Linked DNA regions of Homo sapiens: all the other regions are linked to region 2. Evidence: fine-mapped expression QTL. A gene starts in region 2. Each other region holds a variant in brackets. All regions are shown on one strand. Distances are between the middles of the regions.

Region 1 (4,067 bases), 55 kb after region 2:
GGCTCACTGCAACCTCCGCCTCCTGGGTTCAAGCGATTCTCCCACCTCTGCCTCCTGAGTAGCTGGCATTACAGGCCCATGCTACCATGCCTGTCTAATTTTTGCATTTTTAGTAGAGACGGGGTTTCACCACATTGGCCAGGCTGATCTTGAACTAGTGACCGCAGGTGATCTGCCTGCCTCAGCCTCCCAAAGTACTGGGATTACAGGTGTGAGCCACCGTGCCCGGCCGCAGTCCTATTCTTTTTTTTTTTTTTTTTTTGAGACGGAGTCTCGCTCTGTCGCCCAGGCTGGAGTGCAGTGGCGGGATCTCGGCTCACTGCAAGCTCCGCCTCCCGGGTTCACGCCATTCTCCTGCCTCAGCCTCCCAAGTAGCTGGGACTACAGGCGCCCGCCACTACGCCCGGCTAATTTTTTGTATTTTTAGTAGAGACGGGGTTTCACCGTTTTAGCTGGGATGGTCTCGATCTCCTGACCTCGTGATCCGCCCGCCTCGGCCTCCCAAAGTCCTATTCTTAATTGTGTTCATCTGAGGACTAAGAACTCCACAAGCTTGGCTTTGGGAATAGCAGTAAAGCAACAACACAGTGCTGGGCTCGAAGACGGACAGCTGCCTGAAAGACGGCAGAAGCTCCCTGAGTGTGCCAAAAGCACTGATGAAGTTTTAAACCTAGTCCAAGCTAACTGAGTGATGCTAGACCTTCCCGCAACTTCTCTAACCTGGATGTAAATTGTAATTCTAGAGCCCCTTGTTTTGCGGGAAAAAAATAATCTGTGTATGGTCAAATAGCAGATGGAATGAGCTGCCAGACGGAATCTTTTGCCAGTGCAACGGAACAAAGTACTTGTTCATGCCAGGCTCAGGTCCCCTGTTACTTGCAGTCCTCCGGGCAGTCCTGTCTGCTGGCTGTCTCTCTCCCTGCTTTACGTAGGAAGCTGGAAGAGGTCAGGGGATTTCCTTGAAATTACAGGCTAGTGAATGGCAGAACAGGAGCTCGAGCCTGATTATCTGCTAAACCTCTGCTTTGGAGCTTTGAGGCCTTCTGCACAGGTCACTTGCATTCTCTGTGTAGGGGTGCAGGGTTGTTTTCTCTCCCATCGGCTTACTCTTGGATTGGGCCTTCCCAGAGGTGCCGAGAAGCAAAACCCAGTTCTTTGATCTTCTCACTTCAGCTGTTCTTTCTTCCAGCCAACTTCCAGGATTACATCCCTTGGTGTGACCACACCACATCTGAAATCTCAACTCCCCACTTCCCACCCAGTGACCTGCACCTCCTGTCTTTCAATGCTCCTGGCGCTGACTTTCTTGCCGTCCCTGACAAGCAGCCCTGCCTTCAAGTTCTCACTGGATGAAAGAAGAAGGCAACAGATGTTAGATGCCGTGTGCACATATTCCCATCTTGACCATTCTTTCTGTGCATGCTTTGCTGTGGAACTGTTGGGGCCCCATCCAGCTGTATAAGCTGAGACATGAATGTGCTTCCACAGTGTGGGCACCTCGGATGCAGGTACAGGCCCCTCTAGATCCAGGGCCACTTGGCAATGTCTGAGATATTTTTGGTTGTAACAGCTGGGGTGGAGAGCGCTGCCAGCATCTGGTGGGTGGAGCCAGGAACGCGGCTAGCCATCCTGCAATGCACAGGACAGCCGCCCACGACAAGGAACTGTGCAACCCCAAACGTCAGGGGACCCTGCTCTTTATCAATCCTAGGGTTTCCCAAAAAGCCCGACAGCACATTTGATACAGATGCCACCAACGGGGTGGAGACAAGGGGCGAGGGCTTCAGTGGAATCTCAGCAACTAAAATCAAGCCGACGGTCAGGTCAGAGAAGCATTTGGAAAGCCTCCAGTGCGTTTAGGGGACCACGCCCTCTCATCATGCCAAGGCAGCTGCCCAGTGAGGTACAGGGTATAAAGGTGACGTGGTCAGGAGTGGCTATTTGATCTCCAGTTATTCCAGAATTTCCACTCTCGTGCCAAGCATGTCTCTCCAAATGGCTGCTCTCTGGCGTTCCTCACACTCCCCCTGAAGTTCATCTAAGATCTTCATTCTTCAAAGGTGAGGCTTGTATGTTCTATGTCCAAGTCTTCTCTAAAGATATCCAATTTGTACACATGGAGAACATTTTTTGTACTCGAATAGTTGATGACTTT[G/T]CTTTGAGCTATCTCTCAAGGGCCAAAGTGCAAAAGGGCAAACCCTTCTATTAGAGTGTGGGTCTATGTTTTTAGTGTTATGCCGAAGTGTGTTTTAGCCTTTATTTTCCTTTATGGAAATTCATTTTCTTGGAAAGATCATTTTGGGGATGCTGTTTTAGGATTTCTGTACCTTCAGCTGGAAGGATGCTCACCGTTCCTGATGTTCATGTCTGCCCTTCAGTCAGGGAGCCTGGAAGCCAAGTTGCTTAGTGGCAGTGCTTTACTTTTAAGCCTTCGAATACATCTTGAGTACCTTAAACTTCTCTGTATGCTATGGGTACTGTTTAAATTCAGATTATGGAGTCCTATTCTCCCCACACTTCTTTTTTTTGTGAATGACATTTATCAATGACATTTGTAGCGTGGTGGATTCTGAAGTTTTCAGCTAGTAGCGTAAAGATTTATTTCATGGCTCTGACTGTCAGGAATATTCTCTTTTCTAGAATGTTAAACTCATAGGCAGGATTACTGAGGCAAAGCCACATAAATGAGGGAATCTCTGGAAAAAATACATTGCTTTTATTTTGTACTAAAATTGCCATTTTTTTTTTTTTTTTGGCCAAGTATAGTGGCTCACACCTGTAATCCCAGCACTTTGGGAGGCCGAGGCGGGTAGATCTCTCGAGGCCAGGAATTCAAGACCAGCCTGGCCAACATGGTGAAACCCCATCTCTATTAAAAATACAAAAAAAAAGTAGTTGGGTGTGGTGGCACACACCTGTAGTCCCAGCTACTTGGGAGGCTGAAGCAGGAGAATCACTTGAACCCAGGAGGCGGAGGCTGCAGTGAGCCGAGATCACACCACTGCACACCAGCCTAGGCTACAGAGCAAGACTATCTCAAAAAAAACAAATTGCCATTTTCTATTCCTAAGTATATATTGAAGCATTTGATTTATTTCTTCTCAGTGGGGTATACTGTTAGCTGGTGAATGCAGTTGTTGAGGATGAAGCTTATTTCCCCATGTCAGCATCTATTCTGAACATTTTAAATGAACTATTCTGAGAGCATGTATAGATTTTTTTTTTCTTCACAGGAGAGCTGCCTTAGGAGGACTTTTCAGAGTTTGTGCCTGTAAGACTGAGAAATACATAATGGATTTTAGCTGTCGTGTTTTTAGAAGGTAATTGGTAGATATTTGCAGTGCATTGTCTTCATGAAAAACAAAATTGGGCCTGGTGCGGTGGCTCAGACCTGTAATTCCAACACTTTGGGAGGCCAAGGTTAGTGGATTGCTTGAGCCCAGGAGTTCAAGATCACCCTGGGCAACATGCTGAAACCCTGTCTCTGAAAAAAAAAAAAAAATTAGCCAGGCGTGGTGGTGCACACCTGCAGGCCTAGCTACTTGGGAGGCTGAGTTGGGAGGATAGCTTGAGACAAGGTTGCAGTGAGCCAAGGTTGTATGTAGTGAGCCAAGATTGTGCCATTGCACTCCAACCTGACACTCAACAGTGTGAGACCTTGTCTCCCTACCCTCCCCCCCCCACACAAAAAAACCCCAAAAATCAGAAGTGGTTTTCTTAGAGATGCTTTACTGGAGGTGTTTGTGGCCATTTCCTTGGCTACTGTGTATAGAGGAGGTTACTGTGGTCACTCTGGTATGGACTTAAAAAGCATCAATTCTGTGGAACACACTGGGAAAGCGGATACATTTAGGATTGCTATAGACTTATTCCTAGACACTTTTTGAGATGAGTTTAATTCCAGAGTAAAATACATTAGAAATTATTTTAAGTATGCCTCAGAGTGTATCACAAAACAACATTTAATGGTGTAATGTAACGCCATGGAAGGGCTCTGAGCTCAGGTACAGTGCACCTTGACTGGGACACATACAGCTCTGAGGCAGGTCCTTCAATATTGGGTCCTC
Region 2 (4,067 bases):
AGCAGCTGGCAGGCAGCAGGTGTGGGTGCAGGAATGAGTGAACTCATGGGGACCAGCCTCGGCAAAGACGCACAGTCCCCACAGTGCCCCAGGGGCTGGGAAACAGTGAGCAGCCACCAGCAAGACCAAGGCAGTGCAAGTGGCCACGGCTCAAGGTTTCCCCCAAGGAGGACTATGTCACTTAAGGAGTATGGCCTCTGAAGTAATGTAAATATGGCCTGGAAGATTCAGTCAACACCTATTTCCTTAGTGCCTACAATGTGCAGGTGCAGTTTCTGCTCCCGGAGTTCAGTCATGAACAATGCCACAGTCAGCCCTGCCAACCCACCTGCGTCAGCTCAGGCACCCAGAGCAATGTCACCTGGATCTGCCCTCCCTCCCATGTCACTGGACTCGCTGTCTTTTCCCTGCAATGAAACCTCCAACAGCTTTCCCTGCCACTGTGGGTGGAAGGGCCCTCTTCCTCTTCCCACCTTCATACAGCTTCCAGGCCACCTCCTTAAGAATCCAAAGCAATCTGGTCACACCACTTGGTGGGAAATACACCGAAATGTTAACTGTCCTTATCACTGGGGGAAAAAAATCACAGGTGACTTCAGTACAGCCTCCTCTCCTCTACCATCACTACCCTCCCTCCCATCCTTCCCCAGGTCCAGCCACACTGAAGTTCTCCCCATACCCCAAACACACCAGTAACTTTCCCACCCGGTGCTCCTGCCGTGCCCTAGGCAGGGGCTTTTAACCCCTACCTAATCCTCCGATTTGCTTTACTTTTAAATCCACCTCTGGAGCATAGACTGTGAGCTTCAGAGAGCACAGGTAAGTTCATTACTTTTTCAACAACTAGGAGAGAGCTGCGACGCACCTGCCCCGATCCTAGAGGCTGGGGACCCACCAGAGAAGTGACAAGTCCTTGATCTCAGGGGGCAGACAGCGGGGAGAAGGATGGATGCTAGCACGGAGAACACGCGTGTAAAGACAGAAACGCACACATCCACACCATGCCGCTGTGAAGCCGGCGCCCAGGAGGCTGGCCAAGGTCACAGGAGCGGCGGTGGCGGGCGGATCCGAGCACCTCTCGGCCTGACCCCAGAGCCTAGCTCTCACCCCGGCGAGGGACTTCCACCCCGACTCACCGCGGAATGGGGAGCGCCAGGCTGAACCAAATCCTGTGCTCACCCCTCCGTGCAAACCCCTCAAGGCAACTCAGGCCTCTGAAAGCCTTCCTACCCCCCCGCTCTCCGCTCAGGTCCCCACTCAACCGGTGCCCACCGCCCTGGCGCGCGTCGCTCCGCGATTACCGGCCCGCCAAACAGTCCCCGCAAAGTCCACCCTCCGGGGCTCCCGGTCCCTCAGGTCCCGCGTGCCCGGCCCTGGGCATCCGCAGCGTCCCCGTGGTATCGGACCCCCATCGTCCCTGACACCTGGCGTCTCCGCCCCCCGCCCCCGTCCCCCGCCCCGCCGTCCCTGGCCCCTGCAGTCCCTGGCCCGCGCTGCGGACCTCCGGCTCTGGCTTCCCCCGGGTCCCCGCGGCCCCCGTCCCCCCGCGTCCCCGCGTCCCCGGCCCAGCGCCCGCTGACGCCATGACGCCGCGGCGGAGGGAGGGGCCGGGGCCGGGGCCGGGCCGGGGCGGCGCGAGCGGCTGGAGCAACGGGCCCCGCGGCAGCTGCGGGCGACGCGGTCGATGGACATGGGCACCCAGGGATCGGGGCGCAAGCGGCTCCCCAACCGGGAGCGGCTCACGGCGGAGGACGACGCGCTCAACCAGATCGCGCGGGAGGTGAGCGCTCCGGGAGGGCAGCCGGGGGGCGCCGGGCGGGCGCGGGGGCCGGACGGCTGTCAGGGTCTCTCCGGCGTCCGTCTGTCCCGCTGTGCGTCTGTGCCACTGCGCGTCCGGCTCCAGGCGGGTGGGCCGGGCAGGCGCGCGCCGGGGCGCTGATCCCCAGGCGCTGCGCCCCGGCCCCGATCTCCGAGGCCTGCGGACCCCGCACCCGTTCTCCAGCCCCGGGCCCAGCCCGCGACGCTGCGCGCCCTCCCCCACCCCGGCCACCGTCGGCCGCTGCGCCCTCGGGAGAGGAGCCGGGCGCCGCCAGCGCGCGAGGTGGCCCGGGCTGGCCGGGTGGGGGCGAGCGCCCCGCTTTGTTGTGCGGCATGGGAGGAGGCGGGGGCTTAGGCCCGACCTGGAGGCAGTGGACGGTCGCCGGAGGCCACATGGCCCTGCTGAAATGGCCGAGTCGCTCAGGTGACCATTTGTCATCCATCCATCGATGTCACTCAAGGTGCAGCTCAGAGATGAACTTGGGGATCACTGTGATTTTTCTTTCAGGACTGAGCCTGGAAACGGGTCCAGGCACACTGAAACGTCTTCATTAAAGTTTCCTGGACAGAGTTTATTGTAACTAAGATCATGTTTGGTGATGAACTTTACCTGTGACAAATTGAAGGCGCACTAGAATGGGTATTTGTACAAATGCCTTTTTTTTTTTCCTTCCGCAAGGATTCTACCTTAAGGCTAAAGAATGTACATGACATCCAGAAAGCCGTACAGGGACAGAGAGCAGCAGCTTGGGAAAAGGGGAGCCAATAGGTTGCGGCCCCAGGGGGACAAAGGAAGCTTAATTTTTGACTGTGTTCCCTTTGTACCATTTGAACTGTGTGCCAGGTGGGTGTATGAATGCAAAGAAAGTCTCTGCCTTGTAACCCGCCTTACAGGTTCTTTTCCGTGTTGGCTTTTCCACATGTGATTCTTCCCACAGGAAACACCTCCAAGCCATTTGGACTGTGGTGTCTGGCTGTATCCGTCAGATATTCTGGGGGATCTACTCTGTAACCAATCCTTAGGTGTTTGTAGTTGTAAATACCTGATTTTGCTCTTACGGACATGTGGCAGTCACTCAGTATTTGTTGACTACTGAGTGAATAAAGACTTCTGTTTTTCTCTGTATGATACAGAAAAGGGCTTTCCAGGCAAACCCTTATTCATTCCTGGAAGCCCACTGTGACCTCCAGGAGACCTTCCAGACTCAGCCCTCTCACATCGCACCAGGCCTAAGTCTCCCTGGCTCCACGGCCCTCCATGGCATGCCCGCGCCTGGCATGGCAGTCAGGATACCTTATCATTATTTGTCCACCTGTAGAAGGTGACACCCAGACAGGAAATATCTTACTTTTGTATCCCAAGAGCTCAGCACAGAGCCAGGCACATACTAGGTGTTTGTCTATGTCTGTTACATTAATTAATAAACAAAAGAAGTACAAGGCATTTAAAGGACCTTTGGCTAAATATAGACATTTGCTAAATATAGTAGCTTGAGTATAACTCCCTCCTGTGAAGACAGTCACTTATGTATGCATTTGACCACAGTGCCTTACAAGTGTTCCCTGCAAGGGCCAGAGGTGGCCAGTGAATCGCAAGCCTTGTCTTGATGTCAGTGGTTATGGGGCAGAAGAATGAGAAGAATGAAAATTTCCAGAGTTTGCCTTTTATCCACTGGTGTTTCTTTCTTCTTTTTTTTTTTTTTTTTTTTTTTTAACACAGTCTCACTCTGTTGCCCAGGCTGGAGTACAGTGGTATGATCTCGGCTCACTGCAACCTCCACCTCCCAGGCTCAAGAGATCCTCCTGCCTCAGCCTCACCAGTAGCTGGGATTACAGGCACGCACCACCACACCCGGCTAATTTTTGTATTTTTAATAGAGACGGGGTTTCACCGTGTTGGCCAGGCTGGTCTCAAACTCCTGGCCTCAAGTGATCTTCCCGCCTTGGCCTCTCAAAGTGCTGGGATTACAGGCGTAAGCCACTGCGCCCAGCCTATCTGCTGGTTTTTATAAAATAGATTGAAAAGGAAGGCAAGGGAACACTCCTTGGGTTGAGAGCCCTGAGGTCCTCCCTCCCACCGAGGGAGATGCAGTTGGAGTTACAGAGATAGACTTGTGAGTCAGAGCTGGGCTTTCAAATGACATAGTTCTTAGCCAGCTGTGCCATCCTAGGAAGGTGAGTTACTCACTCTTCTCTGGGCCTCTGTTTTCTCGTCTCTAAAATGGAGAAGAAGAAACCTCCCCTGGCTG
Region 3 (4,067 bases), 29 kb after region 2:
AAAGGATATGAAATCAGTATGTTGAAAATATTCCTTTTTTTTTTTTTTGAGACAGAATCTCACTCTGTCACTCAGGCTGGAGTGCAATGGCGCAATCTCTGCTCACTGCAACCTCCGCCTCACGGGTTCAAGTGATTCTCCTGCCTCAGCCTCCCGAGTAGCTGGGATTACAGGCACCTGCCAGCACGCCTGGCTACTTTTTGTATTTTTAGTAGAGATGGGTTTTCACCATGTTGGCCAGGCTGGTTTCGAACTCCTGACCTCCAGTGATCCCCTGCCTTGGCCTCCCAAAGTGCTGGGATTACAGGCGTGAGCCACCACTCCCGGCCTGTTGAAAATATATCTACACTCCCACATTCCCTGCAGCACTATTCACAATAACCAAGATATGGAATCAACCTAAGTGTCTAACAACAGATGAATAGATAAAGAAAATGTGGTATCGAGACACAATGGAGTACTCTTCAGCCTTCAACATGAAGGAGATCCTGTCATTTTCAACAGCATGGAGGAATCTGGAAGACACTATGATATGTCAAATAAACCAGGCACAGAAAGACGAATACCACGTGATCTCACTTCTTTTTTTTTTTTTTTTTTTTTTTTTTGAGACGGAGTCTCGCTCTGTCGCCCAGGCTGGAGTGCAGTGGCGGGATCTAGGCTCACTGTAAGCTTCGCCTCCCAGGTTCCCACCATTCTCCTGCCTCAGCCTCCCGAGTAGCTGGGACTACAGGCATGCATCACCATGCCCAGCTAATTTTTGTATTTTTTGTAAAGTTGGGTTTCACCGTGTTTGCCAGGCTGGTCTCAAATTCCTGACCTCAAATGATCTGCCCACCTCAGCCTCCCAAAGTGCTGGGATTACAGACATGAGCCACTGCACCCAGCCGTCACTCATCTTCTAATGGAAAGAATTTGCATTTATAAAAGAAGGATTGACATTTGTAATTTTTCTAAGAAATGGAATTTACAGTGCCAATATAGATGACTCTCAAATCTCACATCGCTGAGTGCTAAGTGAACTTCCTGTTGCTGTGAAAGTTAGCTACAAATCTGTCATATTTGAAGTGAGTTAGAAAGCATGTGGGGAAGATTGACTACATCTCCTGAATCCACTAAAGCTGATTTGGGTGCTCGTTTTGTGATTGGATATATATAGGACATCTTTTTAACTCCCTAATATGATATAACCAAAACCAGTTCTCTGTATTCTCTGTAGAAAACAACACGACAGGCCAGTGTTGACTGAAACCCAACCACATGAACAAAAAGGGCAAAGCCCAACGCTGTTAACCCTCAATGGAGATAATTAAAGACAAAACAAGAGAAATACTGCTTTATTTCTTACTAGGCTGCTAATGAAAAAGACTCACAATTCCACAAACAGGGTGGACATCGCTTTCCAGTTTACTCTTATCTTTTGAAATGTGAGTTATTGGTTCCCAGTTTGAGATTTATTCACTGAATCAACTGTCAGTCTTTTCATTGGGGTTATTTTCATTTTGTTTCATTTTGATTTTGACCTTAACTTCTGGAAACTATAATTGGGGAATAAAAGGTAAGGGGTGTCTCCTGATAGGAATTACATATGTAACGTAAATATATAGATACATCTATCTATCTATATGTAAGGTGGCAATGCATATATGTATTTAAAAAACTAAATAAAACAAAACCAAGATTGTCTAGGCAAATCAGTGCTATGTATAGAATTTCTCTTTGGTTATTTGGGATTGTAATCTTGTCTTTATGCAATTCAGGATTACACTGAGAAAAATTAAAGAAAATGTCAAAAGCTATTATACTGGGCAGGGGTAGGGCATGAGTTTAAAGATATTTGAGTATTTTCAATATATCCAAATCATATGTATGCATTTGTTTCTGCCCAATTTGTGAAATATATGGTTTATCATGTCTATCTAAATACTTGCTGAGGAAGGTAAGTTAACTAGTATTTACTGAGCAACTGTATAGGTAGGATTTTGTCTCAATTTCCAAGCAGTGGTTCTTGGCTGTGGCCCTGAGCTCTCTCAAGAACATGGTGCCTGGTATTCCTGCGTGCACACTGAGCATTGTCTAGGACAGAGCACCAAATATTTTATGGAATATCCATGTGACTCACGTATGATTATTCATAAATTACACATTAACTACCACAATAGAAGTTAATTCATTGTACAATATAAACAAAAGTAAATTTAAAGAGGCAAAAAATATAATCAGAAGAGCATGCATTTTACTTCAGAGAACTAGACAAAAATTAAATGTGCCTTGTGTCAGTATGTATTTTTACTTTTTAAACATTTGTAAGTACTATTTGTGATTAATAAAATGCAACTGCTCCTAAAA[A/G]CATTACTGAATTTATATGTCAATGGAAGTTCACTAATATAATGTGACATTCTGTGGAATTTTACAATGTTACGAAGATAACATAATTCATGATAGAAAACCACTATTCTAAGATTTTCATCTTCATCAAAGTAAACTTACCCATGAAGGGGCATTTTCTGAAGAAGAGCCCCCAAACCCTTGTTTGCAGTGGTGGGAAAAGGCTGGCGGTGGTAGGGGGCATCCTTGCACCATTTTGGTTTCAGTTACAGTGGAGCTGAGGTTGGATGAAGAATCACAGAAACAGGTCAAGTGTGAGGATGCACGTACCAGCCAGGCAGGGGAGCGAAGACAGAAATGGGAAACAGGAGCAAAATGAAACAGAAATAAAGAGAGGAAAATAATTTAACAGTGAGTAGACAGGCAAAGGCAACATATGTAAAATTGGAGTATTCTAAGAGGAAAACCTAAATAAATGGAACAATGAATATTTTCACATATGAATTAATAAGGCATTCCATAAAGAAGAGTCGAATCTCCACCATGCCCCAGAAAACATAGAGATAGTACAGTCACTACTGAAACAGTCTAATCGTGTTTTCAGATGGCCATGATAAAGAGGTTCTTGAGAAGACAGGCAAAAAACAACAACAACAACAACAAATCAAGATCAAATGGGAAAATATCCAACCTGGCCTCAATTTCTCCGTGGCAACATTCACTATTAGAAGAAAGTTATGGCAATGTCTACAAAGCCTTAAGGAAAGAAAGCGTGACAGAATTGTTCACGCTTCAAACTGTCATTCAAAAATAAAAGAGGAGAAAAATATATTTGTTTATATAGGCATATAATTCCCTAGAAGGATATGTAAAAAAATGAAATTCCATTTTTAAAAAATGCAAGGATTCAGGAATATCGTCCCCATAATTCCTTCTTGAATAAACTATTGAAGACAATGTCTTCCACCTGACATTGTTCCATGGAATCACTGAGATCCTTTATGAACCTGTAGGCTCAAGCCACAGCCCATATGAATTAAATTAGAAGCTCGGTGATAGCACTGAATTATCAATACTTTTTTAAACCCCAAGGTTCAGAACGAGTGCAACCAAGAGATAAGTGAAAGAAGTACACAAGAGAACTGGCAATGAGCGTTATTTAACTGTGGGACTAAGACAAGCATGGAAATCCTAAAACCAAGGAGAACCACCTAAAAAACTGTGACAAACAGTACAAGGATTTAGGAAGGCAGCTGGGTATAAGCTACTGCCCAGAAATCAATAGCCTCCATATATTCATGCAATAACCAGTTAGAAGACAGAATGGAAGAAAAGGCTTCATATCAATAGCTATAAAATATATAAAATACCAAGGAATAAGGTTGGCATGAGTGCAATTTATATAAAGAAATCTTTAAAACACTACTGAGAAACCAAAACTTTCAACAGCAGAAATGGCATACCATGTTCTTGGATAAGATGACTTAACACTATAAAAATATCAAACCTCACCAAGTTTATCTACATAATGCAGGTCCCAATAAAAATATTAATAGAATTTCTTTTGGTACCAGATAGCCTGGTTCTAAAACTTGTATGGAAAAATTAACAAGCAATAATAACCAAGAAATTTTTTCAAAAAGATTAGTAGGGGGCTGTGCATTAATCTGTTTTCATACTACTGTAAAGAACTGCCCAAGACTGGGTAATTTATAAAGGAAAGAGGTTTAATTGACTCA
Region 4 (4,067 bases), 150 kb after region 2:
AAATAGCCCTGAAAGGCTGAGGACCAGAAAAAGCCGAGATTTTTAGAACCAAGAAATGTCCTAAGAGGGATAAGTTAAGACAGCAAGTCTTTCCATCCGTTTCTTACAGAGCAAGCAGGAAGGAAAGAATTCTTAGAATTTAAGTTGTTACAGTAGATACTAATCCTTTATCAACAACAGTTAGTTGTAGAAAATAGCTAATGTGGCTTGGGAGTGTTTTAAAATTTTGTTCTTTAAAATTAATTTAGTTAATTGGCCGAGCGCAGTGGCTCACACCTGTAATCCCAGCACTTTGGGAGGCTGAGATGGGTGGATCACTGAAGGTCGAGAGTTCGAGACCAGCCTGGCCAACATAGTGAAACCCCGTCTCTACTAAAAATACAAAAATTAGCCGGGCATGGTGGCAGGCGCCTGTAATCTCAGCTACTCAGGAGGCTGAAGCAGGAGAATCGCTTGAACCAGGGTGGCAGAGGTTGCAGTGAGCCGAGATCACGCCACTGCACTCCAGCCTGGGCAACAGCGAGACTCTGTCTCAAAAATAAAATAAAATAAATAAATAAATAATGTAGCTAATTAAAAAAACACATCATACTGGGACGTCCCTCTTGCCTGGGCTTTTAGCCTTTCTCTTGCAGCGAGGCCCGCCCTCCCTGGTGTCTAGACATGGGGCACTCCTGCCTCTAGCACCCTGGGCCCTAGGGCAATTTGTGTTCTAGCCAGAAAGAGAGAAAAAAAACAGGACTGTTTCCCCCTCCATTGTGGGTGTACTTGGCTGGAACTTTTTAGAATGTTTATAGAAACAAAAATGAGAACAGCACAGGTAGAGACGATGTGTGCTTTTGATTGCGGCAGAGTGAAGGTGTCCAGCAGGCCTTCGCTGCTGCCGTCTTTCATCTCAGAACCTTGGCTGGGGAATGCCATGCCGAAGCCGCCTCCTTTCACTCCTCGCCCTGTCCTTTCCTCCTCCCACCCCCGCCACCCCAGGAGAGATTAGACTGGAGCTGAGGTCGTGGCGGAACACGTCCCTTACCAGCACCATTCTGCCTGTTCCAACAGAACAGCCCCACGCAGCGGGAGAAGAAGCAGGCAGCAAGGTGCCAGCACTGCAGAAACCACCCTGGTGGACGGGGTCAGAGGAAATGGGTCCCCATCATGTCAGCACAGGGTCGCCCAGAAATAGTAACCAAGAATAGCTTGCTTGGCTCAAACCCACACCATAGTCCAAAATGTTATAAGTATTTACATGGTGTATTCTCCCATTTTATTAAATCACACTCTTTGATCTCAAAGTAAAGAAACTGAAGAAAGAAAACAGGCTTATCAATTTATACATATGGTTTTTTTTCTACCTTTTAGGTAATAAGGTTAGAGAGTCAAGTATCACGTTACAAATCAGCGGCTGAAAATGCAGAAAAAATAGAAGATGAACTTAAGGCAGAAAAACGGAAACTCCAAAGAGAGGTAAATTTCCTAGGCAATTTCTAGGAAGAGAATGGCTGCCAGTATTTCTCTAGTGGGGACGGTACAGAGAGGATTTACTACTGTGACATCTGCCCCTGGGCTGGTCATTGTCAGATCATCCCACACCACTCTGCAGTGCCGGTGTCTTAATAAAGGAAGGCATGGCGCAGCCAGTTAGGGCTTAGGGCTAGACCCTTGCTGGCATCAACTAGTTCATCTGTCAGTTTTGAGCATCTCCTATAGGTCTTGTCCGTAAACGTCAAG[A/G]GAATGAGATAAAGGAGTAGCCAGGCCTCTTATGCTCCGAATATTTTTTGTGTCATGCAGAATGAGCCCAGGTGGAGGACCAGGAGCCCATGGGCCTGCTGTGGCCAAGAGCTGGGTGTGGCACCAGGGCCAGGCCACAGCTGTCTCAGGTCACCCTATGGAGAGTGCCCTTGAGAAGCCGAGCTGCTGTTACTCCACCTGCTGGTCACACTCCCAAATTACCATGCTTGCCAATTAAAACACATACTTTACCTTACTGAAGACACTTGGCAAAGTTGTTTGTTCAACAAATATTTACAGCACCCGTTGCATGCCGGGCACGGGTTCAGGTGCTGGAGATGCAGCTGTGACCTTACAGACAGGAGTCTCCGCCTCCATAGAGCCTGTGCTCTGGAAGAGGGAGGTCCATAAAAGTGACCACAGGCAGGAGAGGGGCTGGGGTGCGGAATGGCCCAGGCCAGGGCAGTTCTAGGTAGGTGGCCAAGGAAGACTTTCCTTCTTGTGGCATATAAGGACAGGCCTGAACAGCCCAGGGAGTGAGCCAGGCAGAACTGGGAGAAAGCCTTCCGCGCAAAGGATCAGCACGTGCAGGGGAGCTCGGGGCAAGGCACTGCCTTTGTCAAGGAACAGTCAGAGCGGTGGAGGCCAAGTGAGCAGGGGGTGAGGGGGTGGAGGGAGCAGTGAGAGCACCTCAGCCCGTGAGGCAGGGCCCTGGAGGCCATGGACAGGACTTGGGATCCTCCTGTGCATAAAGTGGGAGCTACTGCAGGGTTTTGAGCAAAGGAGTGGCTTATGTTGATTTATGTTTCAATAGGATCACTCGGGCCGGGCGCGGTGGCTCACGCCTATAATCCCAGCACTTTGGGAGGCCAAGGTGAGCAAATCGCTTGAGCTCAGGAGTTCAAGACCAGTGTGGGCAACATAGTGAAAACCTGTCTTTACATAAAGTGCAAAAAAACTAATTAGCCGGGTGCGGTGGCCCGTGCCTGTAGTCTCAGCTACTTGGGAGGCTGAGGCAGGAGGATTGCTTGAGCCTGGGAGGTGAAAGCTGCTTTGACACATGAGCGTGCCACTGCACTCCAGCATGGGGCGACAGAGTGAGACCGTTTTTCATTAAAAAAAAGGAAAGAATCACTCATTTTATATTTAAACTGTAGGAAAGGGACTGTGGAGGAGAAACCAAAGATGCCATTTCTCTCCTCTTTATTTTATTTATTTATTTATTTTATTTGATTTTATTTTATTTATTTATTTTTTTGAGACGGAGTCTGACTCTTGCCCAGGCTGGAGTGCAATGGCGCCATCTCGGCTCACTGCAACCTCCACCTCCCAGGTTCAAGCCTCCCACCTCAGCCTCTCGAGTAGCCGGAAATACAGGCACCCACCATCATGCCTGGCTAATTTTTGTGTTTTTGTAGAGACGGGGTTTCTCCATGTTGGCCAGGCTGGTCTTGAACTCCTGACCTCAGGTGATCCTCCTGCCTTGGCCTCCCAAAGTGCTGGGATTACAGGCATGAGCCACCATGCCTGGCCCATTTAACCTTCTAGCCTACTTTTGCTATGGTCAGAGAACATGGTCCCTGTTATACCTGGTCTTTGAAATTTGTCAATACTTGCTTAATGGCCTGATACATGATTCACTTTTGTAAATGTCTCCAATGTGGTTAAGAAGAATGTGTAGTCTCTGATTTATGGATGCAAAATTCTGTATACTTCCACTGATCAAACTTGTGAAGTGTGCATTCAGATCTGATTTCTTTTGTCTGCTTAAATTCTCAGTAGCTGATAGAGATTTGTCAAGCTCTTCCAAAAGATGATGGTGGATTTATCTCATTCTCCCTATTTCTCCTATATATGTTGAGGCTATTGATACTAGATGTTTAAAATTCTGATATCTTCTTGATGAGTTAAACCTTTTATCACTTTGTAGTGACCCTTTTGGTCCCTGCTGCTGTTGACCTTGTCGGGTATTCACGTGGCCGCATCAGCTTTCTTTTGGTTAGTGTTTGTCCACTTCTGATTTTTGCATCCCTTGGCTTCCAGTCTTCCGTGTGTTGTTATGCGTTAGATGATCTCCTTCAGATGCACATAGCTAGGTGGCGGTGGCTCTTAGTTGAATCTGGAATCTGTGGATCTTAATAGAGCCCTTAGTCCATTGTTATTGGTATATTTGGACTCGTTTTCACCATCTGACTGTGGATAACCATTTGTTCTGTCTTTTGTGTGTCATTTTTCTCTTGCCAAATTTAAATTTTATATTCAATTTCTATTCTTTTCAGTGATCACACATGGGGTATTTTTATTTAACTTAAAAAAAAATTAAAGTTGAACACTATCTTTAC
Region 5 (4,060 bases), 66 kb after region 2:
CGCTCCCCGGCGGGCTGGCTCCTGGCCCCGGAAGCGCGAGCGTTCACTTAGCGGCGAGTGGCTCCGTCTCCGCGGACAGAGCGCGCGCCCCCTGGCCCGGCCCGCGAGGGGCTCCCGGCGCGGTCCCCGAGCATTTCCCGCCGGGTGGAGCGGGCCGAGCCCGGCAGGATGACCAGCCCCGCGGCCGCTCAAAGCCGGGAGATCGACTGTTTGAGCCCGGAAGCGCAGAAGCTGGTAAGAGGAAAGCGCTTCCGAAACTTTCTTTCGTGACTGCGGCGGGGTTTCAGGGGCTTCCAGCTCGTTCCGAGGTCAATGGCAGGCGCAGGTGCCCGGGAGGCGTGGGGTGGGCTCTGGCGGGACCCCAGCGCGGTGGGAGCGGGCGCAGTGGGCGCGGGTCCGTGAGTGGCCCGGCGAGCGGCGTCCCTCATGCGCTAGGAAGCACGCTTTATTGTGGGACGCCACCTCCAAGGACGAAAAGGCACATGGTCTCTCCCCGCCCGAGGTGATGGGCTGCAGACAGGCTCTGACCAGGTCTGCGCCTGGCCTGGAGTCACAGGGAGCTGCTAGTTTGCTATTTTACAAAATACAGCATCAAGGACCGGGTGGCCAGAGCCGGTGCCCTCACCCGCTGTTGGAACCACCGGGGAGCGGCTGGGGTGCTTTGGAGCACTCAACCCGCTCAGCACCTGGGGACCACCTCCGCCGAGGACTCCAGACGCCAAATCCACTTTGGCTAGTCTCCCGGGTCCGCCCAGCGCGGACAGGATCCTGCCTCTAGGATTTTGCCGTTGTCCAGCTCAATATGCAGTCGTGGGGCTACGGCTGTAGTTTGGCATTAAAATTGGGCAGGGGATGAGGCGGAGAGGGTTTGCAAATACACATTTTCATGCAGCTTGTGGTTGAACATGAATGGGAATAAAAGTGAAAGGGTGCACTTTGGAAAAGAAATATAAAACCCTAGCTTTCCACTTAATCAGGTGTTCGTGGGATCTTGGTAAAAGTATGAGCCCCAAACAATCACTCTTTCATCAGGTAGAAATTAATCATCTACTGGGTGTGTGTGTAAGATTTAAGATGAATCAGACTGCCTTGACCTTGGGAGAGCTTATTAGGAAATGCCAGAGAGAGGTGTAGAAGTAGAGTCTGATGAACTCATACTGAAAAGCCAGTTCTTTGCTTGTCAGATGGTTGCTGTTTTTTAAATGTCCATTTTAGTGTGGTTTTTCTGTGACTTCGTTTAAAACTCTGGCAGTGGGCCAGCCCTCTGGAGCCGGTTTTTACCCCTTCAACTAATTAGTTCCTAGGGGCCTGGGAAGAGAGACCCTTGAATCACCATCAGGGAAGGGTTCTTGAAAGAAGGAAGGGTGGGAATGTGGTTGAGCGGTGCCAGTGTTCTGAGGAGCAGCCTGGGACACCATAGATGGCAGGAGGAGGATGGAGGTGAAGAGCTGCCTGCTGGACTTAGAGTCCTTGGAGAAGGGAAGAGTAAACATTGAGAACAGGATGTGAGGAAACTAGGGACAGGCTAATCAGAGGAGTAGGTAGAGGCACACCTGGAGCAGCTAAGGCACTGGCTACAGGGTCTATTACTTAAGGCTGGGAGCCTCCTGGGCGGGTCTGGGTTCAGATGACTTCGAGATGCTGCCGGGAGGAAGGGAGAGGAAAGTCTGGACTGTGTCCAACTGAGTAGTTATGTGATCAGCCCAGGCCCACTGTCCCTCACCCCCAGTTCCAGAACCCAATAAGCTTTGAAGACCGGAAGGTTTGTGTTTTGTTTTGTTTTTATAAGTTTGTGGCAGAATTTTGGCAGTGAGACTTGCCCTGTCCAATGGGGGGCTAGTTTTGGTCTTCACTGATCCCTCTGAGTGTGAATTTTCTTACGTTTCTCTGCAGTCTTGTTGATGTCTTTGATTAAGGGCTGCTACTCTGGGTTGTACCAGAATATATGGTGTATGCATCTTACTACGTTTCTAATGTCCAAAAATGCTGAATTCTGAATCATGGCCCCAAGGGTTTTCAGAGAGAAGTTGTGAACCTGTAGGAGCTTTTCTTGGTAAATGGTAGCAAAAACTGTATCAGAGTGAGACATGGTGAACAAAAGCAAAATGCAGTTCCTGTTAAGAGGCTAATGTTCAGGTAGGGAAGGAAATGTGCTGAGTGGTGATGGGAATTGGGGGTCATCATGGGTGGGGGGTAGGGCGTCACCCAGCGGCTGCCCTGGGCCATGGGCTGGGTATAGGCAC[A/G]GGAAAGTGGTTGTGGGTGTTTCACACTGGTTTGTGCCAGTTCTTGCTCTGCATTGTGTCCGTGGGTTCAGGGATGGGTCTCCTGCGGAAAGGAGGGACTGGGGGCCGCACCCATGCAGAGGAGAGCCGGGTTGGTCAGAGGAAGTAGATTTGGCAAGCTCCACCTCAACTAGAAGACAAAAGCAGGATCTGAGTGGGAGCCTGGGCTTCTTCAGCAAGTGGGCACCAGCCCTGGAGCTGTAGGAGAGGGTCCGATGCGGACAGTGGAGACACTGTGCATTTCTGCAGCTTTTGTAACTTCCCTGTGTTTGCGATGGCTTGTGTCACCCCGCTCTCTTTCCACATACTGATTAGCATTCAGCCCTTCTAAATGACCAGCACTGTCCCAAGAAAGGGCTGTTAGGGGAGAGCGTGGACACACAGTCTCCCAAGTCCCATCTCATTATAGGTACCTGGGCCAGGGTCCCCAGGTGTGGGAGAGTGGAGTCTTGACCAATATGGGGATGAATCAGTTGGCACGAGGCGGGCTGGCCCTGCTCTAGCTCAGTCTGAGATGGTGGAGCGTGGAATCATATGGTGTGTGTTTTAGGCATGTCATTTCCCCGGGCAGGTAAGACATAAATATAGTAAGGTAGGTCTTTTCTAGTAGTATTGAGAGTGTCCTACTGGGGCAAAGATGGAGACTAAATTTCCCTTTTTCTTTAAGAGTCAGTTTCTGTTCAGCCTGAGTTAATATCCCACAGCGGAAGCCTCCTTAGCAAATTTCAAAAAACCCTGCAGTCTCAACTGCCACTTATGCTGAGCACAGGAAATCAAGTTATTTATAGTTGCAGAACGGTGTTTCAGCGAAGTTGATTGGAGAGTTACCTGATTATAGTGAGATTCTTATCCAATCCCTACAGAATTGTGAGACTAAATGTTGGTGCAGCATGTTTGGTCCTCAAAAGGCAATGTCCAAGAGGAACTTCTTATCCCCGAAAAATCAGGCTGTGTGACTCAGCAAAGGAATTGTTTATGACTGGTTACTCATATGCCAGTGCTTCCAGAATATCTGCTCGTATTTAAAGGAGTGATCTTGAAGCCCCAGAGGCCATAATGTTTAGATTACCAACCTCTTCACCAATCAGTAAGTCCATTACATCTCACTACGTGTTAGACATGGGACAGGAGAAGAGGATTTTTATTACCTCACTGTTATTACTGGAGGCCGCCCAAATTTGTTTTTTGTTTTTTTTTTTTAAATAAAGAAGCTTGTTTTCATGGAATGGACTTACTAGAACTTTTATTATTCAGACTACCTAGATAAAATTAAGTAAATTCGTTTCTTTCTCCCAAATTAAATATTTTGACTACATGCAAGATTTAATCATTCAAAATTGCCATGTATTTGATTATAGACCAGTAGTATAATCCCCCTGCCCCAGGCCAGATTCCAAAACAATAAACCAAAACACACACACACCTGGCAACAGAAATTATATGTATTCCGAGACTCATTCATTCATTTTGGAAAGGGCCAGTGTTTCCAGTGGTTTCTCCTTGGGATTGTAACTTTACAACTTTAAAACTAGGTAAGTAGTTTTCCCTTGAATCTAAAGTATAACTACTTTGTAGTAGAGAAGTAATTTATCTTAAATCACTATAATGAAGATTTACTCTTAATTTTAACCAAAATGTTTCATTTATTTGTGTAATGAAGATGATCAAAGCAACGCCACCTGTGATCCTTCTGTCTTTTTTACTGTATGTGGCACGTGGCTGTGTGATTTTCCTAGGGAAAGGAGTGGGCTTTCCCTGTGGGTTGAGAACCTCTGTCC
Region 6 (4,067 bases), 47 kb after region 2:
CAGATTCACCTTCTCCCTGCACCTCTGCACTTCCCTCTGGGTTTCCTGTCTGTACATCCAGTGCCGCGCGTGGCGTGGGGCGTGGCGTGGGGTGGTTCCTCACAGTTACCCTCGCTGGGTGTGCGGTTGTCTGACATCAGTCCTCCCCAGAAAGTGCGGCTGCCCCCGGTCGGTCGTTCTGTCTGTAGCTGGCGTGGTATCTGGCACGGCGGAGGCCCTGGGTCCGTGTTTGTGGATGGAATGAATCAATGTGTGAATGAAGGAAGTCACATTGGCAGCAGTGGCGGGGAGGGTACCGTTTGGGGACAATTCAGATCATTCTGAGGAGACATGCTGAGGCCTGCTCTAAGACAGCAGCTGTGGGAGGGCACGGAGTGGCATTAAGAGAGGAAGCTGACTCGATGACGGGCGGAGAGGTGGGCGGAGGCTGTCTCAGGAGCGCCAGCAGCTGGCAGTGAGTGGTGGGCGTTTCCTGACACTAAGGCTCTGTGCAGAGCGCGTCTACAAACACTGTCTATTGTCTCGTTTCATCCTCACAACAACCACCCCTATGAAGTTGTCACTATTATTGTCTCTCCTTTACACATGAGTCTGGGCACAGGGACTTCAAGTGAAGCCTGCTAGGAGGCACTGCTGCTGCCCCCGCGGGAAGGAAATGCAGGGAAGGGACTCAGGGGGCAGCAGGAATTCTGCTTTGGATCTGTCACATTTGAGGTGCCTTTGGGGCTTCCAGGAAGAGGTGTCCAGACGGCAGGGGCTGAGGCTTGGAGGAGTCAGGATTGGAAATATGAACTGGGTGCCCATCAACATCTAGGTCGTGGTCAAAGTGGGTGGTGGGGTATTACAGGAAAGAGCTCTGCAGCCCCCCAGAATCCTAGCCTGCGCCCGCAGATGAGCAGGGGCAAGGACGCAAGGGCAGTTGTGCATTTTCCTTCTTTTCTGTGGCATTCAGAAATAGGCAAAATGTGATACACTGCAAAAGTGACTGTTTGCTATCTGCAGGAGTGGCCATCAGTGTTAGTTAAATGAGAGCTGTGCAGAATGGCATGTGTTTGTCCTCTTATTATTTTTGCTTTAAAAACCTGTTTTAAAACCCTGGTATCAATGGTCAATTATGTGACTTTCAAAAGCAAAAATTAAGGAAGACAAAAGAACTGCATTTGACACCTTGAAAGGCCCAGAGGGATTCTTAACCTTGGGTCCAAGAATTCCCCCAGGGGCCTTTGGATAGATTTCCAGAGATCCCCGAAACTGAATAGGAATAAAAGGGTAGCATTACCTTCCATTATGAATGCGGGCAAAAACCTTCGGTAGTATTAGAAGTGTGACCTCAGCACCAATAGAAACCACAGGTATTTCTCCGTCACTTTCGGGTTGTTGCTGAGAGCTGGGGAAATGGTTTCATGCATCACTGTCAGTATTTGGTGGAATAAGGACGTGCACGCACGTGCTGGCTGTTGAACTGTTGCCTCTCCACTGCAAACCCTCCCTTCCTTGCTGCAGGGCCAGAGCTGTGCCCTATCGGGCCCTGCCCCCAGAGAGAGCCTGGGCAGTGGGAGGAGGGAGCCCGGAGCACGCTGCTTCCTGCCTGCTTCCTGTTTCTGTGAGCGTCACCCCAGCAACGGGATTTCACCCTGGCTGCAGTTGTTGGTTCTGTTTCTAGTGTTTTTCACACGCCCAGACACCACCCTCACCAGTCCCTCCTGAGCCCCCGCTCTGAGGTCCGGGTCCCCACTCCAAGCCTTCTGGGACCATCACCCCGGTCTTTGTCTCCAGCCCTAGCTGTTCCTGAGATGACGCCTCTGTGGTATGAG[G/T]CCTCCTTTGCTTTTTCGGCCAAGCAACACCTGTTTAGGGGCTGCCTGTATTGCTTCTATTGAAATCACTGCTGTAATTTCTTTTTCTCCTGACTTGGCTCTGATTGATACACTATATCAGGATTTAAAAATATTTTTTGACAATGTGTTTCAGAATAATCAGTTTCCTTCGTAACCCTATGTTTCGTTACATGCGTTTAAAAATATTATTCCAAGAATGCTCCACAGGCTTCACCAGCCTGCCAGGGGGATCCACTATACCAAAAAACAGAGAGCTGAGAGCAGTTGCCAGCCTGATTAATTGCCGTTTCCTGGGCTGGGTTTAAATGCCTCTAGGAACACAAAACATAAAGGGTTTTCTTTCTGTTCTTCCTCCCTTTCTTTTCGAATGAAGTTATGGAAGGAAATGAACTTTGTTATTTTCCCCCTTTAAAAGTAGTACCTGCTCATGGAAGAAAAAAGAACACTGGAAAAGAAAAGTAAAGAAAAAAATATCTCTATCTTCCTTGTGACATAAAAACACCCATGGCTCCATTTTGATGTATTTCCTTAGGGCCTTAGGTGTTGTTTATTTTTGCAGAGATATAATTGTCATAATCTTTGTCATAAGCATTTCCAATTCTACTTCATACTTGTCTTAAACACTATTTTTATAGCTGGACAGGATGCTGTAAAGCAGTAGGTTGACCTGGCCCTTTTCTTATAATGTAAAACTTTGACCATAATTTTATTGTGATAAAATATTTCTAAGATTTACCATTTTAACCATTTTTAGGTGTAAAGTTCAGTGGTTTTAAGTGCGCTAGTGTGTAGCCATCACCATCATCCACTTCCAAAACTTTTTCATCTTCCCAAACTGAAATTCTGTACACATTAAACACTGACTCCCCAAATTCACAGAGCTGAAGGTGGAGTGGGCATTGCTTTCCCCAGCCCTTGGCAACTCCCATGCAACTTTCTGTCTCCATGAATTTGATTAACGTAAATTTTTACTACTGAGCTTCGCTTTTCCAATAAAAGTTCAAGGTACATAGTTTAAATGTACATACTTTAATGCAAGCAGTATTGCATGACACCAGCCTGCCTTCTTTCGTCCTTTTTAAAAAATTAGACCAGAAACTGTTGTTGAATCCCATGTTGCCGGTCCTGATGGTTATCTTTCTAGTGAGACCCGAAAATTCACGTGGGGACATGACAGCTTTCCATTTTCATGAATTGCAAATGTGGAGGGCTCATGGTAGGGAGATGGTTTTATTTTTGTGGGTTTTGTTTCGTTTTGTTTTTTGAGACAGAGACTCGCTCTGTCACACAGGCTGGAGTTCAGTGACACGATCTCGGCTCATTGCAACCTCCGCCTCTCCGGTTCAAGGGATTCCCGTGCCTCAGCCTCCTGAGTAGCTGGAATTATAGATGGGCAACATACCTGGCTAATTTTTGTATTTTTAGTAGAGATTGGGTTTCACCCTGTTGGCCAGGCTGGTCTCAAACTCCTGGCCTCAAGTGATCTGCCCATCTCAGCCTCCCAAAGTGCTGGGATTACAGGCGTGAGCCACAGTGCCCGGCCCAGGAGATGGTTTTAAAACAGAGATGTGCCCTGGTTGCCTTCTCTGAAAGTTTCTCTCCACACAGATCTCCTGACCTTTGGTGTGGCTGATTTCACGTGGAGTCTGTTGGATTCGCACCATCTGGCTCCTGTTTTCTGGGGAAACTCTGCGCTGGCTTTCGTCTTCCTCCTTTTGTGATTACATAAACAAAAGGGTAAATTGTTTTCTTAAACGTTAGTTTTAAATTGTGCTAAAATACACATAACAAAGTTTGCCATCTTAACTATTTTTAAGTGTACATTTCAGTGACATCAAGTATACTCACCCTCTTGTGCAGCCAGCACCACCAGCCATCCCCAGAACTTCTTCATCTTGCAGAACTGAAACTCTGCCCCCATTAAACGCTGACTCCCCATTCTCTTCTCCATCCAGCCCTGGCACCCATCATTCTACTTTGTCTTGATGAATAGTATGAGGTACCTCATCTAGTTGGAATCATACAGCATTTGTCCTTTTGTGACTAGCTGATTTCACTTAGCATGATGTCCTCAAGGTTTTCTCACATTTTAGCAGATGACAGCATTTCCTTCCTTTTTAATTCTGAGTTAAATTCCACTATGTATCTATACTACATTGTGTTTCTCCATTCAGCCATCAGTGGACACTTGGGTTGCTTCTACCTACAAAAGACCAAATTATTTTGTCCATT
Region 7 (4,067 bases), 140 kb after region 2:
CCTAGGAACCTTAGCAGGTGCTACCTATGAGGAACAGGTTCAAAGCCAAATTCTTGAGAGCAGTTCTCTCCCTGAAAACACAGTACAGGTTGAGTCAAATGAGGTCATGGGTGCACCAGATGACAGGACCAGAACTCCCCTTGAGCCATCCAACTGTTGGAGTGACTTAGATGGTGGGAACCACACAGAGAATGTGGGAGAGGCAGCAGTGACTCAGGTTGAAGAGCAGGCAGGCACAGTGGCCTCGTGTCCTTTAGGGCATAGTGATGACACAGTTTATCATGATGACAAATGTATGGTAGAGGTCCCCCAAGAGTTAGAGACAAGCACAGGGCATAGTTTAGAGAAAGAATTCACCAACCAGGAAGCAGCTGAGCCCAAGGAGGTTCCAGCGCACAGTACAGAAGTAGGTAGGGATCACAACGAAGAAGAGGGTGAAGAAACAGGATTAAGGGACGAGAAACCAATCAAGACAGAAGTTCCTGGTTCTCCAGCAGGAACTGAGGGCAACTGTCAGGAAGCGACAGGTCCAAGTACAGTAGACACTCAAAATGAACCCTTAGATATGAAAGAGCCCGATGAAGAAAAGAGTGACCAACAGGGAGAGGCATTGGACTCATCGCAGAAGAAGACAAAGAACAAGAAAAAGAAAAACAAGAAGAAAAAATCCCCAGTACCCGTAGAAACCCTTAAAGATGTTAAAAAAGAGTTAACGTATCAGAACACAGATTTAAGTGAAATTAAGGAAGAAGAGCAGGTAAAGTCTACTGACAGAAAGTCAGCAGTGGAAGCCCAAAACGAGGTGACTGAAAATCCAAAACAGAAAATTGCAGCAGAAAGCAGTGAAAATGTTGATTGTCCGGAGAATCCTAAAATTAAGTTGGATGGAAAACTTGACCAAGAAGGTGATGATGTACAAACAGCAGCTGAGGAGGTACTAGCTGATGGAGACACATTAGATTTTGAGGATGACACCGTTCAATCATCAGGCCCGAGGGCTGGTGGTGAAGAATTAGATGAAGGTGTTGCAAAAGATAATGCTAAAATAGATGGTGCCACTCAAAGCAGTCCTGCAGAACCAAAGAGCGAAGACGCAGATCGCTGCACCCTGCCCGAACATGAAAGTCCCTCACAGGACATTAGTGATGCCTGTGAAGCAGAAAGTACAGAGAGGTGTGAGATGTCAGAACATCCAAGTCAGACCGTCAGGAAAGCTTTAGACAGCAATAGCCTAGAGAACGATGACTTGTCGGCACCAGGAAGAGAGCCAGGGCACTTCAATCCAGAAAGCAGAGAAGATACCAGAGGAGGGAATGAGAAGGGCAAAAGCAAAGAAGACTGTACCATGTCCTAAGCTGAGGCAGGCGGCAGGCGCGGTGCACAGGAAGTCTCAGTGTGAAGGGGTCTTTTCTCTCCACTGCCAATGTAAGTAGAATGTTCTAAATTCATAGAGAGGCACTGTATGACAATTACCAGGTGCTCTACTGCTTTAAGTTATAGACTGTTACTTGTAGATTTCCATGTAATCATTGAGGTTATCACCCAGATTAGAAAGACATATTTGTTATCAGTGTACGTTCTAATTGAGAGCATTCCAGTAGTATCAAACAATAATGTCTACTGTTTATAGTCCACTTAATAAAAATAGAGGCATTTACTATTTGCCTTAGGCTGATAGGAATGTGGGTTTTCTTGACCAAATATATCAGCATCTAATTGAAATGACCAAATAGCATTCTTAGACTTCTGTATTATGAATATAATTGATATTTAAATTAATGTCTTGTTCACATATGTGTACTTTCATATTTGATTTTAAAATGTACATTATAACCTGTATGGTATTTTATTTAAAGGAGATAAACAGCCAAATAGCAAATAGGTCACTGAATGATAAGATTTGCACCTTAGAACAATAATCATTTTAAGGATAACAAGTAAATGTCTGAAAGCATGAGGGGCTTTATTTGCCTTTACCTCATATGAGTCTTTGATCTTGAACCGATACTTTTGGATCTCATTGTTGATATACCTGAATTTACTTTGTAAGAGATTTTAACTTCACTTCATGCTGATGATGTATCAAATTCATTTTATAGAAAGATTTAAAGTTTTTTTCTGGAAGTGATATATGTCAAATTACATTTCCTACTGCAGTATTTGAGCAGGGACAGTCATTTTTTAAATGTTTTTGGCCGGGCGTGGTGGCTCATGCCTGTAATCTCAGTACATTGGGAGGCCAAGGCAGGTGGATCACCTGAGGTCAAGAGTTCGAGGCCAGCCTGGCCAACATGGTGAAACCCTGTCTCTACTAAAAATACAAAAAATTGGCCGGGCGTGATGGTGGGCGCCTGTAATCCCAGCCACTCCAGAGGCTGAGGCAGGAGAATCGCTTGAACCTGCGAGGCAGAGATTGCAGTGAGCCAAGATCAAGCCATTGTACTCCAGCCTGGACAACAAGAGCGAAACTCTGTCTAAAAAAAAAAAAAAA[AACAC/A]ACACACACACAACACAATGTTTTCACGCCTGTAAACCTAGCACATTGGGAAGCCAAGGTGGGAGGATTGCTTGAGGCCAGGAGTTCAAGGCTGCAGTGAGCTATGATTGCACACTGTACTCTAGCCTGGGAGACAGAGTGAGACACTGTCTCTAAAAAAAAAAAAAAAAAAAAAAAAAGTTTTTGAACCTTAAAATACTTTGTTTGAATTTCTAATCATCATTCAAAAGAGCAGTAAAAAATGGTTACTTGTTCTTGTACAAGCTACTAATTAGACTATAGTAGGATATTTTAAAGAGCTGAATCACTTTTGGTATTTTGGTATAAATATTTTCATTTGTTATGTCCCAGTATATTCTTACTGGAAAATTCTTGTTTTGATCTGCCTGAAGAAAATATCTGTTTTCTATATAAAAAAATTTTTTAAAATAATTGTAAAGTTAGATTTAAAATTGTAAAATATAAAATCACAAAGGAATGTACCTTATGAATGTTGTTGACATTTTATGAAATTATGTGGATTCATATTACTGTTACAAGATAGAATTGAATGCAAAAAGACCAAAACCTCAATAAAATTTGAGGAAAACGTGTTATTATGTAATTGAAATAAAAACATTTTATAATTGTGCAAGCCTGTGGTTCCACTCTTTGGGCTGCTTGAAGTCTGAGTCTGACTACTGTTGTATGTAATACCACCTTTGAGTAATATCTGCTTGGGGGTTGCTGATTCCTATTGGGGTTCCGTGGAAGACCCACGCCTGATGCCCTCCCTCAGTAAGGAATGCACTTCCCTCCTGGCATCGAGCCTGGGGCTAGCATGGGCATTACTGGGAGAACTGAGACGATTGTCACGCACCATCCCCTGTGATCTGTGGTTCTGATGTGCAGCCTCAGCTGAAAACGGTCTTCACCTGTGGCTGTGCTTACCTGCGCCACTACTTACAGTGTTTTGAAGAGCAGGATGAAAACGGCAAAAACCTTGACTGTTTCTGCTCAAGTGTCCTGAAGTAGAGGATGGTGGGGATGATAAATGCTTGCTAGGAAATAAGTCCAAGGGCTCTATAGGACTTCACAGGGTTTTAGTTTATGTCTCTAACTTTAGCAAAGCTGCATTCCTATTGGAATGCATACTGGAAACAGCTCTCATTCCTACCTTTAAAGGGCTCTTGGAAAGCAGTGTGACAACCAAGGTCACTAAATGGTGAGATCATCAAGCCATTTTAAGTTCTTTCTCATGTTATTCACCAGCACCCTGCAGGACGTTGGGCACACATCACATCCCTCAGCTCAGCCATCCAGCCGTCTCAGTGATTCACCACTCATTTGCTTAATTAATAGACAGGTTTGATCACTTTGTACATGGAAGGCACTGTGCCAGTGAACAAGCAGTTGGACCCAGCCCTCCAGTAGGGAATGGACAGCTGAAAATCCATGAGCAAGAAAGAAGGAAAAAGAAAGAGTTCTGAGCAGCCAAACCATTTCTCGATGATTTCAGAGCCTTCATTCTGAGCATCAGTTATATGCTCTCCAGTGTAATGACTTTATAGCCAAGCACAGTAATTGATATTA

What was found. PIP is the estimated chance that this variant, and not a neighbour inherited with it, causes the effect.
Region 1: its variant is fine-mapped to the expression of LRRFIP1 in whole blood (INTERVAL, PIP above 0.99).
Region 3: its variant is fine-mapped to the expression of LRRFIP1 in whole blood (TOPMed, PIP above 0.99).
Region 4: its variant is fine-mapped to the expression of LRRFIP1 in whole blood (TOPMed, PIP above 0.99).
Region 5: its variant is fine-mapped to the expression of LRRFIP1 in whole blood (TOPMed, PIP 0.98).
Region 6: its variant is fine-mapped to the expression of LRRFIP1 in whole blood (TOPMed, PIP above 0.99).
Region 7: its variant is fine-mapped to the expression of LRRFIP1 in whole blood (INTERVAL, PIP above 0.99).

What each region holds. Positions count from the first base shown.
Region 1 is chr2:237,681,436-237,685,502 of GRCh38, forward strand. The region is part of intron 1 of LRRFIP1 (LRR binding FLII interacting protein 1); the gene reads left to right. Among named protein-coding and RNA genes, the nearest start is that of LRRFIP1, 56 kb to the left of the region's middle. The variant G/T (reference allele first, on the strand shown) is at 2,156.
Region 2 is chr2:237,625,961-237,630,027 of GRCh38, forward strand. It overlaps LRRFIP1 (LRR binding FLII interacting protein 1), which reads left to right and starts at 1,627. Exons shown (of 24, transcript NM_001137550.2): 1 at 1,627-1,780. The coding sequence starts at 1,685.
Region 3 is chr2:237,654,521-237,658,587 of GRCh38, forward strand. All of the region lies in intron 1 of LRRFIP1 (LRR binding FLII interacting protein 1), which reads left to right. Among named protein-coding and RNA genes, the nearest start is that of LRRFIP1, 29 kb to the left of the region's middle. The variant A/G (reference allele first, on the strand shown) is at 2,350.
Region 4 is chr2:237,773,002-237,777,068 of GRCh38, forward strand. It overlaps LRRFIP1 (LRR binding FLII interacting protein 1), which reads left to right. Exons shown (of 24, transcript NM_001137550.2): 23 at 1,357-1,461. Among named protein-coding and RNA genes, the nearest start is that of RBM44, 24 kb to the right of the region's middle. The variant A/G (reference allele first, on the strand shown) is at 1,726.
Region 5 is chr2:237,692,288-237,696,347 of GRCh38, forward strand. The region is part of intron 1 of LRRFIP1 (LRR binding FLII interacting protein 1); the gene reads left to right. Among named protein-coding and RNA genes, the nearest start is that of LRRFIP1, 67 kb to the left of the region's middle. RefSeq lists a silencer at 1-231 and an enhancer at 2,295-2,474. The variant A/G (reference allele first, on the strand shown) is at 2,244.
Region 6 is chr2:237,673,425-237,677,491 of GRCh38, forward strand. All of the region lies in intron 1 of LRRFIP1 (LRR binding FLII interacting protein 1), which reads left to right. Among named protein-coding and RNA genes, the nearest start is that of LRRFIP1, 48 kb to the left of the region's middle. RefSeq lists enhancers at 1-281, 1,402-1,696, 1,650-2,196, 1,753-1,892. The variant G/T (reference allele first, on the strand shown) is at 1,815.
Region 7 is chr2:237,762,787-237,766,853 of GRCh38, forward strand. All of the region lies in intron 19 of LRRFIP1 (LRR binding FLII interacting protein 1), which reads left to right. Among named protein-coding and RNA genes, the nearest start is that of RBM44, 34 kb to the right of the region's middle. The variant AACAC/A (reference allele first, on the strand shown) is at 2,492.